Linked DNA regions of Homo sapiens: region 1 is linked to region 2. The links come from fine-mapping of genetic effects on gene expression. Tissue or cell type: subcutaneous fat. Region 2 holds a variant in brackets; the other region holds the start of a gene. All regions are shown on one strand. Distances are between the middles of the regions.

What was found. PIP is the estimated chance that this variant, and not a neighbour inherited with it, causes the effect.
Region 1: ALPK1 starts here. The variant in region 2 is fine-mapped to the expression of ALPK1 in subcutaneous fat (GTEx, PIP above 0.99). The same link has a PIP of 0.9 or more in sun-exposed skin.

Annotation. Positions count from the first base shown.
Region 1 is chr4:112,293,076-112,301,183 of GRCh38, reverse strand. It overlaps ALPK1 (alpha kinase 1), which reads right to left and starts at 3,815. Exons shown (of 16, transcript NM_025144.4): 1 at 3,715-3,815. RefSeq lists an enhancer at 3,757-4,051.
Region 2 is chr4:112,418,035-112,426,142 of GRCh38, reverse strand. ALPK1 (alpha kinase 1) reads right to left here. Exons shown (of 16, transcript NM_025144.4): 6 at 2,140-2,199; 7 at 392-478. Among named protein-coding and RNA genes, the nearest start is that of NEUROG2-AS1, 93 kb to the left of the region's middle. The variant G/A (reference allele first, on the strand shown) is at 3,096.

The DNA of each region.
Region 1 (8,108 bases), 120 kb after region 2:
GAAAATTTCTCGGTAATGATATAGTTATCTTGGAAAATGATGACGGGCTGACCAGCAGTGTCCAAACTTTAATTAGAGCTGAAGTTACTGTGAAGAAATGCCAACTAAAAGGACACATGATGAGGTTCTAAATTTTTTTTTTGTAGAAAAAAAGGTAATTATGAATGGACAAGGCTTTTGCTGGCAATTCTGCAGATATTTTGGGTGCATATTATGCACTGATGGAGAATGCACCACAGTAACCAGATGTGCTGGGGTTAAGGTCAAAGCAGTGCTGGTGAGCCAATGACACAGTGCATTTTGAGGTGCAGTAGGAGTATATACAAAGACATGACAAAATTGAATATAAGTACAATATGTGCAGATATAAATTACTAAATCCAAAATATGGAAATCCATAAGAACAAGAAATGAGTTAAGAGGTTATTTGCACACAGGTCAGGCCAAATTTCCATTCCCCCTTCCCTGCCTTTTTTTTTTTTATCTTTAAGCCAAAAGAATTATTAGACTGAAGTAAAAGCTACAGTTGACAGAGAAGCAATCAACACAAGAAAAATGAACCAATAGTAAGTGTTTCAACTGGTATTTCCTTCTCTGTTCACTGACTCCGCTGCACCTGTTTGTTCCTAGCACTGAGACTCCGTCCTCTCTTCTTTCACATAGCTGGTTATTTGTATGCCAAATAAAAAGAAGGAAAAACTTTTATCTTCCAAAGCTGCATAGTTTTATTTACTATATATTATTAGCAATATAGTTCTATTTAATAAACTATATTTGTTTTCTCAAAAAAGATATAAGTATATTATATAATAATTTAAAAATTTTTTGTAAGAATATCATGTTATGTAGAAAGAAATAGAAGGAAGGGAAAGAATCTATCACTGTAAGACAACAATCACTTTTAGAATATTTCTGAATTTATATCTATACCATTTTATGTAAATACTTGCATGCATACAAGTTATTCAATCCTGAGTCTGTTTTTCACTTAGTATTTTCTGTGCTGGTACTATTTTTTATCCTATCATGTTTTATGGGTACAGTATCTTTTGCTTAACCTCCCCCTTTTATGAGAATGCTTGCAATTATTTGTTATTACGACTTTATGATGAACATGTTTGCGAATTTTTCCCTTGTCTAGAATTATTTCCCCCTTAGGATGGATTCCCAGAAATGAAATTATTGCATATAGCCATTGGCACATACTATGACCCATTAGTAGCCCTTGATCTAGATAATGTTTAAAGTCCCCCCTGGCCCCTGAGTTCAGAAGTTCAGTGAAACAAGCAGAATGAACCTGTAGTATTCAAGCTGAGACATTTCACCCTTTCTATCACTCTTATTTGAAAAAGTATTGGCTATCTTCTGCATCCCTTCAATTATATGATAATTTACGAGGAAATATAATAGTTTATTAGGCTACAGGTGTGATAAACGTTTGATAAAATATTTCTCTGTCAAATACTTTGTACATCTATACTTAGGAAATTGAACAGATTGCATTGTCAACTGAGCTCTGTAACCAAGGCCCAGTAAAATTCAAAGATACTGCACTGGCTAAGAAAATATCCACTTCTCAAATGCATTAGTGTAGCATGTCTGAAACTTTAGCCATTTGCATGCCATCTTCATAATTTTTGCCAAATCTGCAGATTACCTGTAATATTATTTATTTAATCATTTCCTTAAAATCAATAGTAAATTAGCTCAACTTCTTACTTAACACTTTCCTGAACAACAGTATTCATGAAATTCTAGGTTTTATAAGCAAATTATGTTAATTTATATTAAGCTAGCAAATAACTCAAAATTTTGAAGTTTAGACATGTACTGCCTAAAATCAGTAGCATGTATACCATACTTAGGAAAAGTTGTATTTGTATGTATCTGATATTTAAGTTATAATCATCTCTTCTTTTCTTCAGACATAGAAGAATGATAGCACCAGATAATATTCTTTCTTTTAAGTTTGTCTATCCCACAGTTCTCTATAAATAAAGCATATTACAACATTCTGCAAAAACAGTTGTCACCATCAATAACAAGAAACAAAGACTCCCCCATATAGAGAGGCAACAAATACAATACAAAATACAAAAAAAACAAAAATATGGAATATATTTTCACCAAAAGTTTAAATGCTCATTCCTTTAAGAGTTCTTCAATCCATAGATATTCAAAATTTCAAGAAAGAAAATCATTTACAATGAACAGCTTATGCCAAAAAGCCATCATTCTCTGCAATAGATTAGAGAATAATAAAAGCAATTCATGCCTTGTGTTCATGGGAAAGGGATCAGTAAAATTGTTTGGAATAGAAGGAGCCATGGAATTTCAGAAATATCTTGAAATGCACAAACTTATTCTTAAGGAAAACTTCAGGCTCTAAATCCAAACCTAGATCACATGGCACTTGCTGGGAGGTATTGTTACAGCTTAACACATCAGCAAAGCTCATCACAGTATTATTATATATGATAATGCCTAATATCCATCATAATTTACACATGCCTTTTCTTTACAGTTTAAAATAGATTTTGAAAAGTTTAAAGTAATTATTGGCTTCCTACTCATGCAGATAGAGATGCTATACAATTTTGGTGTCTTCTTGGCGGAAGAAATTTGAGAGATTCATCTCAGATTTAAAAGATCTTTGATATGGGGAATAAGTTATTTCTAAAATAAGTTTAAGTATTTTGTTTCTCTTGAGGCTTGAGGTTGATGGGGTGGGAAGGAGGTGGGAAGAGAGAAGTAAATTGTTTCGGTCAGCAGACAAGGACTGGACTTGACATTGGTTCTAGAGACTAGAGTGTATCCCAAGTGCATAAATTATACCCCAAATTAAATGGATATTGTTTCTTATAAGAGAATTAGTGGCACAAAGTAAAAAGAAAGTAAAAGGGAGAGAGAGAGAGACAGAGAGAGAGAGAAATATATATCGCAAGCAGAGATGCTATTATATTGTGGCATAAAGTCCTCTCCTTCCTGATCCTGCCTGTTTGTACCCTCACCCATCCTCAAATCCCAAACCATCTTAAAGGTTTTAATTTGTGGCTTTTCAAAGTACTCTAAAGTACTAATTTCAAACACTAGAATTTTTTAATTAAAGGATTTTTCTAAATAGACATGCAAAGGAATTTAATTTTTCTGGATGCTTTGTCTCTAAACAATGCTTCCACGCACTCAGAATTCCCGTCAATTCACCCATATGAGACGAGTAAGTCTCGTGCCTTATCTACCTGTTTCCTAGCAAAATTACTGATGCTGTCATAAAAGTGGTAGTTTCTATTATTACCTATGTATTCCAGGCAAAAGTCATAGAGTTTTTTTTTAAACAAATAATCCTAACAATCCTTTAATTAAACATCTCAGTTAAGTGACAAGACCAGAAGCTCAGTGACTTAAGAAACTTGTTATTAAAACCTTATGAAAAACTGGTTTGCCTTCTCCCCTTCATAATGACTACAGTTTACCATTGTAGGTAACTTTTCCCTTCTCTCCCTCCCCTTCCCCACTCCACCCCCTTCACCCCACCAACTCATCCTCCCCTTTCTGGAAAGTTTCTATTATAGAAGTGCAAAGGTTCTTAGAGCTCTAAAGTTATTTAAATATAAACAAGATCAGCAGATGGAAACTGAGTCAACACTTAAGACAAATACTTCCTCATATATTATGCCATCTACTGCGTTTTGTCATTTAAAGGATGATACTCACTTTTATCTTAAAGAGGAAAAGTACTTTAAGACCAGCAAATCTAACTCTGAGCAGAGTTAATTCTGGTACAGCCTCTCTGAAACACACTGTTTCTCATAAACGGCTTCAGTTTCAGGAAGTAGGAATTAAAAAAAAAAAAACAACCAATCCTGTGACTGTCTCAGAATATGGTTGTGTAATTCAATTCCGGGACTTTCAGCAATCTTGCACCATAAGACACACCCCTTTAGGAATTGCTTCGGTGAAAGGTATTCTGGGAGCTGTATTACTACAGAAAAGTTCCTTCTCCTAATGAAAGTGCAAGAAAAACTTATTATTTAGACTAAGAATGGAGAGTCCTCTTAGAGCCAAGAAGAGAGAATGTCAGTAAGAAACAATGAATATGACATTGTTGAAATCTGTTAGCAAAAGACAGATGCACATTAAGGCTTCATTCTGTGCTCTGTCTTAGAAGTGAGCTTGTTATCACAGAGACACATATATTGCTGAACTGGAAAATAAAGTTAGGACTTTTTGGATAGAATATCTGATTAGGCTGACTAGTTTGACAGTGAAAAGTGTCTTATTGAGTTACACAGTGGACATTGTCCTTCCATGGAACAACTGAAATCTGCAACTCGAAATTTTGACAAAAAAATCAAAAGTACCTAAGATTTCTAAATGTCAAAATATATTTTATTGGAAAAGTTATTGACATAAACAATATTTTAATTTTCTCAATCCTTTTTGAGCCTGCTGGGTTAAAGAAGTTTCCTCTAGAGTGAAGGAATAATAGGTTTTATTAATAGTCATTTGATACATTTTGGTAAAGCCTTTGGTATACTTCCTAGAAACTGAGAGAGTGAAGGACTCCAAAAGCTGGGTCATAAATGCTTTGGCAAGTCAATTGTTTACAACAAAATAGGAGGAAATAGTTGAATAGTCAGTTGCTCGATCACTTAAAACACATTTTTTTTGTGTGATAGATCGCTATGTAATGTTTAATATATGACCTTAGAAGTTTAAATAACCAAATGGCATTGCTATAACAAAATTCTATCTCTATTTATTTATGTAAACACAGTTCCTCTCCTCTTCCATGTGTATATTTTTGTGGAATGTTGTTTTATTCCAACTATAAGTAACATTCAGCTGTGAATTAATTTTTTAAAACTCCAGAAATCTTATGGAGAAGTGACACTTGAATAAATTTTATCACTTAATATTCATCAAAACGTACCATTTTATTTTTGTCTTCTTCATCAATTATGAATCAATACTTGTACAATTCAATCTTTAAGAAAGTTTAATACTTAGAGTCTATGGTCACAGAAAACAGAAATGTTTAATTTCTTTTTTCTTTTCTATTTTTTTTTTTTTTTTTGAGATGGAGTTTCGCTCTTGTTGCCCAGGCTGGGGTGCAGTGGCACAATCTCGGCTCGCTGCAGCCTCTGCCTCCTGGGTTCAAACGATTCTCCTGCCTCAGCCTTCCGAGTAGCTGGGATTACAGGTGCCTGCCAGCACGCCCAGCTAATTTTTTGTATTTTTAGTAGAGGTGGGGCTTCACCATGTTGGCCAGGCTGGTCTCGAACTCCTGACCTCAGGTCTGTCTGCCTCGGCCTCCCAAAGCACTGGGATTACAGGTGTGAGCCACCACACCCAGCCAGAAAGGTTTAATTTCAATATATACTTTTTTTGAGAGACATGTTGCCCAGGCTGGAGTGCAGTGGCATGATCTCTGTTCACTGCAACCTCTGCCTCCTGGGTTCAAGCGATTCTCCTGCCTCAGCTTCCCAAGTAACTGGGACTACAGGCACCCGCCACCACGCCCAGCTAATTTTTGTATTTTAGTAGAGACAGGGTTTCACCATATCGGCCAGGCTGGTCTCGAACTCCTGACCTCTGGTGATCTGCCTGCCTTCGCTTCCCAAAGTGCTGGGATTACAGGCTTGAGCCACTGCACCCGGCCTACATATTTTTACTGTAAAGAAATATGACAAAAACTTTCAAGTATATAAACTGTTTTATACTAGGATAAACTTCTATGGATGAAGTGAAATGAAACAGAAGGTTACGGAAATACAGGAATGATATAAAATTTCCAATTGTTAAAAAAGATTTGTACATGTGTCTTTATTTTTAAATTTTTTAAATTTTAAACTTTTTTGAGATAGGGCTGTCACCTGGGCTGGAATGCAGTGGCACAATCACAGCTCACTGCAGCCTTGACCTCCTGGTCTCAAGTGATCCTCCTGCTTCAGCCTCCCAGGTAGCTGGGACCACAGGTGTACACCATCACACCTGGCTAATTTTTGTTTTTGTTTTTTTGTTTGTTTGTTTTTTGTAAAGACAGTGTTTCTCCATGTTGTCCAGACTGGTCTCGAACTCCTGGGCTCAAGTGATCTACCCATCTCAGCCTCCCAAAGTGTTGGGACTATGGGAGTGAGCCACTGCGCCCAGCCTGTACATGCGTTTTTAAATGGATGATGGGGAACATCAAATCACTAGGATATAAAATTTGTGTTGGATACATTTAAAAGAGTAATGTATGAGTTATGTTTATTCAACGTCAGATTTAGACCCTTTGTATCTAAAGTTATAATGAAAGATGAATATCGACTTTATGTGAAGGAATTATTGTCTTTGCAAAATTCTATTTGGGGGTAGGGGAGCAAAAATGTTGGAAATACAGTGTTTAGGATGAAGGGCTGTACATTTCAGAGCCTAAAAAAGGGCACTGTACACCTGAGTATGGAGAGAAAGGCAATGGCACTGATAGAAGAGGAGGGATCTCATAGGAGATATTATCTTTCTTACAGTTTGGACAACAGTCAGATTGTCTTCAACAGGGATTCCTGGTAAGATCCTTAGAGTCATGTAAAACACAAAGACAAAATGGCTCATTTATAATCCAGTGGTGAGTTTTAGTAAGATTTCAAAGATGGAAGTTTCATTACACAAATTTCAACTATTTTAAGTGATTGAGATGTACACCTATATAAGGAATACATTATGACACGCAGGAAAACTGGCTGCAGCATCATACTCATTTTGATTTTCTAGGATTTATCATCTTGAATATAAAATATAAAATGCTGATACAAGCTGACATCATTCGTTCATCTCAATAACATGTTTAGGGAATCTTTTGTGTCAAGTGCTACATTGGTGCTACAGATTCAGACTGTGCACACAAGCAATGCACTTAAGGCAATCACAGTGACTGATGGATTAGTAGTGATGTGGCCAGAAATTAGTTGGAAAAAATTGGCAAGAGTTGGCTCATAATAGGAGGTCTTTGTGTTTCATTTTAAGGAGTTTGGATATTTATATTGACAACATAGAAAATTTGGGCCAGGCGTGGTGGCTCACGCCTGTAATCCCAGCACTCTGAGAGGCCGAGGCGGGCGGATCACGAGGTCAGGAGTTCAAGACCAGCCTGGCCAAGATGGTGAAACCTTGTCTCTACTAAAAATACAAAAATTAGCTGGGCGTGGTGGCGGATGCCTGTAGTCACAGCTACTTGGGAGGCTGAGGCAGAGAATTTCTTGAACCCGGGAGGTGGAGGTTGCAGTGAGGCAAGATTGCGCCACTGCACTCCAGCCTGGGCAACAGAGCAAGACTCCATCTCAAGAAAAAAAAAAACAACAGAAAACAGAAAATTTCAAAGAATGTAAAATCATAAAACTGTTTTAGAAAGAATACTTACTGTTGTGGGAAGGTTGGAGTATGGAGCAAGGTTCATGCAAGGGAGGGATCCTGGTGGTGGGTGGATTAGGAGGCAAGACTGGAATTAGGAAAATGAGTTAGAAGAGTACTGCAGTATTGTAGAGAGAAGTGATGACTAGCCTTAATTAATGGCAGTAGCAATGGAATAAAAAGGAAGGGAAAGAAATATTTAGGAAATAGAATCACAGGCCTGGGTGAGAGACACAGAAATATGGGTAAATGACTTAGAGGCAGTCAAAAAACTATAATTGTAGTTAGATATTACCAAAGGGGAATGTACAGGATAGAAAGAAGGCCACAGAGGTGGAAGTTGGTAATACTGGCATTCACGCAGAAAAAGAGAGATCCATAGAGGAGATGGGTAAAGAACGCTTAGAACAGTAGTAAAAAAACCAAAACAAAGTATATCCTAAAAACAGGACTGGCAAGAGACTTTGCAGGGCCTCTTGTTCAAAAATATTAAGCATTTCAGGTTGATGATAGCCGATATAAGCATGGGACTCTGAGTGCAGGGCCCTATGGATTGCACAGGTCACACACTCAGGAAAGCCTGCTTAAAAGCCAAGTAGATGGAAGTGACAGTGTCAATGAAGTGAAATTGGTCAACAAGAACAAATGATGCAGAGAAGTGAAGTAGGACGAGAACAGAAAAGTGTCCTTTGGCTTGGCAAGTAGGTCAAGGATGG
Region 2 (8,108 bases):
ATATTAGCATTCTATAAACTTGAAAAATTCATGAATACCTTAAGGAATGAACGAAAACAGTGTCACGGTGGGTATAGTATAAGGTGTCACCATATCACATGGAGTCCTGCTGAACTGAGTCAGATGCTAGAAATAACACTGGGAACCCTACAGTTAACATTACAATATACAACCGTGAACCTCTCTAACAAAACTCACTAGAAAAAAACACATTTTATTAATATTTGTGACACTCCTAGGATCTTAAATGCCATTCTCTTTTCGATGAGGAAACTAAGGCAAGTGGAAATTAACAATTTTAGCCTGATAAAAGAAGAAAATTCCACAGTGAAACCATGCAGCCAGGCTTTGTAAATGAGCCTTGAGAAATGCAAGTTTTACATGATTGTACCCAGCTTTTGCAGAATCTGCCCTCTGATCTGTATACAGACCGACTGCACCAGGACCTTGTCACTTTCATTTCTGTACAGCCAGGTACCTAAAAGAAAAGATGAAAATTCCCTTGAATTATCAGAGATATAGCCTTGCAAATTAAAACTATTTTCACAGAAGTCTTCATGAGCACATGTGACATCATTTTGAGAAACAATCTCGTCTCTACATTTAGAATCAGGTCCAAACTTCTTGCTGTAGTCTAAGGCTCTGCAGGAACTGACTCCTGTCTGGTCTCCAGTTCCCCTACTTACTCTCTGTCCACTCTACTTTATTTTGCCTCCTTGTTATAGGGCTGGCCTCTTGCTTCATGGCAGCTGCACTTACCACTAGCCCTGCTTGGGATTCTCTTTCCTCTGGCTTCTTAAGAAACCAGATCCTTCTCCTTCAGGTCTCAGCCTCAGTGCTTTTCCTCAAAGGCCTCCACAGAGTAGTATTTCTACACTGTTACCCCCACTGTCTTATGGTTGCTTTGCGGAGCGTGGGGTGGATCCCATCTGAGGAAAATTTGTTTGGATGTCAAAACTGATGACTGCACACATGTACCAAGAGGGTATGAGAAGATTTATTGCTCACATAATGAGACTTTCTAGGGTAAGTAAGGCTAGCACCTAAGCTGCTCCTTTGATTCAGGCAGGGAGTGGTGAGCGGCTTTGCTTTTCACTGTGATTGGGGTGTGGGGCCGGGTAAAGGTTCCTGTAAGCTGGGTTTGGGTGTGTGGATGAAAGGGCTTTTTGTTGTTTGTTTGTTTGTTTTAATCGGACTGTCCAGTGTGAGGCAAAAGTAAAAAAGGCTGTGGCCTGAAAACTGTCAGTGGTCGGTCAAACATCAAAAATAGAGGCAGACTCTTTACTACCCCCTCACCATTCTCTGTCACATCAGATAATATTTATTTTCTTCCTAGCTTTGAATCCTTGTGTGCGTGCGTGTGTGTGTGCACACACACATGATGACAAGAGTGTATACTGTAGTTTAGTGATGGTGGCCACAAGTGAGGGGTGTGTGGTTAATATTTGGATTCCAAACTGTCTCCCCACTAGAAATGTCCACAAGTTTCAGGCAGTTTGAGACCTCACATCCAAGCATGCTGAGTTTAAAAGTCCAATGGAAACTGTGCTCAACTTATTGGTAAACTTGCTAACTTAAATGCCCAGAAATTCAGACAAGATATCTGAAGCCTTAAGTTATTTGTTACCTAACTATTAGGTCTTGCCTCCTTTCATGGATAATTAAATATTGAAAGAAAATCCATTTTGAAACAAGTTTTTATTAAAGTTCTTATGTACCAAAAATCAAATCCATTTTCTGAACCATTTAAATTGATAAAGCCGAAGCAGACTCTTCTGAACTTAGAGGCTTTTATTTCCAATCACAATTTTGTTTAAAAGCTGCTGTTGAACCTTTCTAAGGCCCACTGAGTTATCTGCCTTGACAGTGATTGTTCATTAGATAGCATACTCTGTAAGGAAGCAGGCCAATAGTAGGTTCCTTGTCTTTGTTGTTTTTTTTTTTAACTTAGAGAAAACAGAGACACAGAGATGTAAGCTGCTTGATCAAAGCTTCTTCATTCATCAGTGGCAGAGCCAGCCCCAGATAGCTCTGGAAACATCTAAGGTATAGTAACTATTAAGTCACTAAGTTGTTATTAAATGAGTGCTCTGTTCGGGGCTGAGGTAAAAGTCATTGTGAAGATATGAAAGTACTCACCCGTTGCTCCATTGTTGCTTATTAGACTGCTCAGAATATACTCTGCTTTTAAAAGTTTTCCTGAAAAGCAGCAACCAAATGCCACACAATTAGCTTTGAACATGCACTTAACAATTACAAGTTGTTCATGTTCTAAGACTGATATATTGCAGCAGGAACTGTAACCTCCTTTGGAAGCATTCCATTTTATAATTTAAAATCAACAATGACATCATCTATAAAACTGAAAAGAAAGATGAAGTTTTCCTAAGTTGGTAAGGTGGGAAGTTGGACAGTATCTGAAATGAAAATTAGATTCATATGTATGTGATAATTCATTCACATAGAGCAGGGTTTGAGGAGTAGAGGCAAACTTTTCTAACAGGCTGTGCCGCCTCCCTGTGAAAACTATACTTCAGGAAGTGGAATAGAGTTGCCCGTGGACAGGAACTAGTTATGGAATTATCTGGCAGGAATTTGGGGGTGGGGAGTGAGGAGATTCTTTCTCAAGTTTTTACTTATTTTTGTTACTACCACATAGGAAGGGCCTATTCTATGGACACCTGTTGGAAACACAATTATTTATCCTTTTAACCAAACATTCCTTTCTCTAGGTTCCTCTAAGCCCTACATGATCTGGCTTTCATGACTTCTTTGACCTCACCTCTAACTACTTATTCCTTCCTTCTTGGCCCTCTACTTCAGTCACAGTGGCCTCCTTATCATCCCTTGGGTAGACCAGGCTCATTACCACATCAGAGTTTTTGTATTTACAATTATTTCAGTGTGTAACGCTTTCATCCCAAATATCTGCAAGGCTTCCTCTCTTCTTCTTCAGGTCTTTGCTCAAATGTCACTGTCTCTGAAGGCCTCCCCTGACCATCTTATTTTAAATTACATACGTAGACATACACTCTGGCTGTGGTAGGTTGTATTTCCAAAAAAGACCACACCAGTATATTCCATTCTTCACGCTC[G/A]TTTGCAATGATGACCTGGCCATTTTTCCATCAAAAAGTGGAATCTAGAGTTTATTTCCCTTCACCTTGAACACAACTGGCCCTGTGACCTGTTTTGACAAATGGAATGTGGCAGAAGTCTGGGCGTTAAGGGATCTTTAAATTCTGCCTTCCCTTCTTGGAACTTAGCCCAATGCTCTGAGGAAGCTGAGGCCGCCACATGGAGAGGCCCATGCAGAGGACAGCTGAGGCCCTCCCCCAAGGCCTCTGCTTGGCTCTTAGCTGGCAGCCAGTACCAAATGCCTACTGTGTGGATGAAACCATTCCAGACCTTCTAGCTATCCCAGCTTCCAGCTGACAGTACTTATAATAATCACCCAAACTACAAATTATGAGACTGAATGAATTATTACTGTTTTAAGCCACTATGTCATGGAGTGGCTTTTAACATAGCAATGGAAAAATCATGCACTTAAAAGTGGAGTACTACTATAACAAAAACTTTGGAGACTTGAAGGGTGTTGCAGAGACAAAAGGCAGTGAAGAAATTGTTCCTGGAAGTTTGAGAAAGGGAACAGACATTATACGGTGTTGTAAAGTTTGGCAACATGGTCTCCAGGAGTAATGTGGAATGTAGCAAAATGTAACCAGTGGACTCGGTGTCTAGCTAGGGAGATACCCAGGAAGGATATTGAAAGTGCCAAAATGTGTATCTTTTAGTTACCCAAGATAAAGTACAGGAAGAAAGCAATAACCTAAAGAAGAAACTACAGTAGTCCCCTCTGTCCCCAGTTTCCCTTTCTGCAGTTTCAGTTACCAGCAGTCAACCACAGTCCAAAAATATTAAATGGAAAATTCCAGGAATAAACAATTCATAAGTTTTAAATTGCGTGCCGTTCTGAGTAGCGTGATGAAATCTCATCCTGCCTGGGACATGAACCATTCCTTTGTCCAGCGGATCCATGCTATCTACGATGATCACCCATTAGTCACTTAGCAGACCTCTCCATGATCAGATCAACTGTCTGTCAGGTAATGCAGTGCTTGTGTTCAAGTCACCCGTATTTTACTTAACAATGGCCGCAAAGGACAGGAGTAGTGATGCTGGCAATTTGGATGTGCCAAAGAGAAGCTGTAAAGTGCTTCCTTTAAGTGAGAAGGTGAAAATTCTCAACTTAATAAAGAAGGAAAAAATTCATATGCCAAAGTTGCTAAGGTCTATGGTAAGGATGCATCCTCTATCCAAAAATGGTGAAGAAGGAAAAAGAGATTTGTGCTAGTTTTGCTGTCACATCTCCAACTGTGAAAGTATGGCTACCGTGCGTGATAGATGCTTAGTTAAGATGGAAAAGGCATTAAATCGGTGGGTAGAAGACATAAACAGAAATGTGTCTTGATTAATGGCAATCAGGCTTGGGCATCTACTGGGGTCTTGGAACGTATCCCCCATGAATAAGGGGGGACTACTGTATTCCATTTTTAAGCAAGATTTAGGGAAAATAAAGACGGCCCAGAATAGTTTTTCCAGACAGCAAGACATTCTGAAGATAAATTTAAAATATTAAAACCTGGGGCAAAGGTCAAATTCAGGGCACTGGCAGTAAAATGTGACCTTAGGGTCAAGATCAAACCAAGGGCGTGGCTGTAAAACACTTTGTTAAGACCTCAGACCCTCTGACCAAGCGAAAGAGCTTCTAAGAATCTTAAGGGTGCTGTCCTGTATCCCTTTGGTTTGTAGCCCAAAGTAGCATTCAAAGATAAATGTAGGCATTTTTTTTCTAATTTAGTATGTTAAAAAGCTAGAAAGTATTTAAAGGAATTATATCAGCTTGATTTAAGAAGGGCAGAGATAGTTCAAAATGAAAAGAGACATCTGGGAGTCAAACTTTCTATAGGCATGGAGTACGCTGAGATGTTTTCATAAAAAATATTTTATGGGCCGGGCACGGTGGCTCATGCCTGTAATCCCAGCATTTGGGAGACTGAGGTGGGTGGATCACCTGAGGTCAGGAGTTCGAGACCAGCCTGACCAATATGGTGAAACCCCGTCTCTACTAAAAATACAAAAAGTAGCCAGGCATGGTGGCGTGCACCTGTAGTCTCAGCTACTCGGGAGGCTGAGACAGGAGAATTGCTTGAACCCAGGAGTTGTAGGTTGCAGTGAGCTGAGATCACACCATTGCACTCCAGCCTGCGTGACAGAGTCTCTCTCTCTCTCTCTCTCTCTTTCTCTCTATGTATGTATGAGTATATACATGCATTTTATAGACAAGGAAGGATGATTCAGAGGACAAATCCAAAAGCTGAGGCGAACCATTCTCAAAGAGAAAAAGTGAGCCCTAATCAAGAAATAATTCTTGTCCTCACATCAGGAAGACTTGGGATATATGCCTGGCTAGATTTTAGATTAATATGAACCGTGACTGCTGAGTGACTCTCATTTCCCCCGCTTTTGCACAGAAGCGCCTATTGAAATTATCTTTTCCTATATCCCCATTGCATGCCAGTTGTGTTGGAAGGTAGGTAACTTGTCTTTTAGTTCACAAGTCTCTGTGTCCCCAGAAGAAGTACCTGAGAAGACTTGTTTGTCCCTAAACCTACTTCAGAGGATAAGATCTTAAGCTTTGAACCTGAACCCTTAATGGTACGAGGCTCTGAGGGAGGAATGAGTGTATTTTGCACATGAGAGGGATGTGTATTGTTGTAGCCAGAACATGAACTGTGATTAAATTGTTTTAGGCCACTAACTTTGGGGAGTGGCTTGTTGCAAAGCAAATGATCACCAAAACACTGCCACTGTTTCTCACCTCTGCTTTATTTTTCTTTGTCATTTATTGCCATAAGACACATTGTATATTTTAATTATTTCCTCATTGCCTGGGTCTCCCCATTAGAGTGTGAACTCTGAGACAGCAGGAGGTTTTGCCTGTTTTGTTCACTGCCCTGTCCCATGTACCTCTAACAATGCTTGGAACAGGGCAAATATTCAGTAGCTATTTGTCATTCATCCAAATACATGTTTGAATTGTGCCAGGGACTGTGCTAAGAGCTGGAGATGGAATGATGAACAAGACAGAGCCCCTGTCTTCAAGGTAATAATAGTAATAATAATAACAATAAGAGCTACCGTTTATTACGTGTTTACTATGTGACGGACATTGTTCTAAATTATATCTAAGCACTCTATTGTCTTCATTTCACAAATAAAGAAATGGGCCTTACAGAGGATAAGTATCATTACCAAAAGATATGAACCAAGGCAGCCTGCCATGAAAGTCCAAACTCACCAGTGCTAAACTGCTTTCCAGAGATACCACTATCTCAGATTAGTTGTCCAACATGATATTTTTGTAGGGGACCATTTTCAGCCATGCAGGATACAATTTTCTTTCCTCACATTCTCATCAGAGGATGGAACATATAGCATGAAATAATATCTGCAGTTTTTAGAGTTTCTCATCTTGTCTCCTTCCCTTGTCAATTTTTAAAGTTACTGTCCTCCCTCCCTTTCTCTCTACCTCTTTCCTTTCATCCTTCCTTTCCTCCTTCTTTCCCTTCTGCCTTTCTTCCTCTTTTCTTCCCTCCCTCCCTTCTAATTTCCTCTCTGTTTTAAACCTCATTGCTGTGCTATTTTTAATTTTTTTATAGTTCTATCTTCTCCCCCAACTTGAACCACTTGATAATGAACCATATCTTGATCATCTTTATAACTATCCTAAAGGCCTAATGCAATTGTTGGCACATAGCAGGCTTTCCACATATATTTGTCCAAAAAAAGAAAAACAGAGAAACAGAGAATAAAAGAAAATTAGTATCGAAATCATGGCTTACAGTCGAATTAAATTTATTCATACCAATATATTTAAAATGACAGATATCAAATGAAATACCTACACGAATAAATTTTATCAAAGCAATCTCTATTCTTAAAAGATATATTTCTAATTAGGTTTTGTTGCTAACTAAGAATGGGCATTTAAAAAATATTGACTTTGTATTCACCAACCTTGCTGAATTTCTTAATTCTAACAATCTGTGGATTTCTTGGAGTATTCTATGTGTTCAGCCATATTGTCTACAAATCATACTGTTTTTGTTTATTCATTTCTAGCCTTTATACCTTTTATTTCCTTTCATTTTCTTATTGCCTTGAGAGGACTTCCAGGGAAGTATCAAATAGAAGCAGTAATGAGGTACTTTTTTTCTTGACATGACTTAAAAAGGAATTCTTATAATTTTTCATCATTGGTTTTGCTGGAGGCTTTCAGTTACTTCCTTTTATCAGTTTAAGAAAGTTCCCTCCTATGCAGGGAGTAACTTTTTCAGCTCCAACTTATCATCTTTCAGTTCCAATCCACCCTTCAATACCTGCTTTGTGATCATGGGGATGGATCTGGTAAACATTTCTCCTTTGTCAGCTGGCAAGATGGTAAGCCTTGTCATCGTGGGGTGTGGAAGGACGCTGCATGGGAAGGGTGCTTCTCATCCTGACTTGGTGTGCTCCTCTGGCCAGGCCACTGCGGGTACCACTTCCTAAATGCCTGACTCCTACAACACAGGCTTTCATAGCTTTCCCTGTGCCTGACTCCTGCAACATAGGTGACTTCTGTAGCATCTGTCTCCTCATTGTGCAGAGGGTCAGCCGAACCCGGCAGTCAGTCCTCTCAGCTGACTTTACAGTGGAGTGCTGTCAGTTAGGCTCCTCTGGTGACCAGTTTCCCCTGGCACTCTGTAAAGGCAGCTTTGTGGTGAGTTCTAAGACACAGCGCCTCCCCGTGGATGGCTTCCCCCAACATTCAGAAGGTGGGTTTCCAGCGAGTTTGGCCAGCATGGAACCTTGGTGACTTCTCTGCCACGCGGCGAGCCATGTCTGTGCCTTCTCCAAAAAGGTCTTGATCTCAGCCGTGGTGTGCGTAGGTATGAGGGCCAGGAGCTCTTTTTTAGGTGTTCTATCTGAGTCCAGGGAATAGTGGCTGTACCTTAAAAATGCTATCCTGCACGCTTTAGAGTTCTTCTTTAGAGTTCTCTTTACTT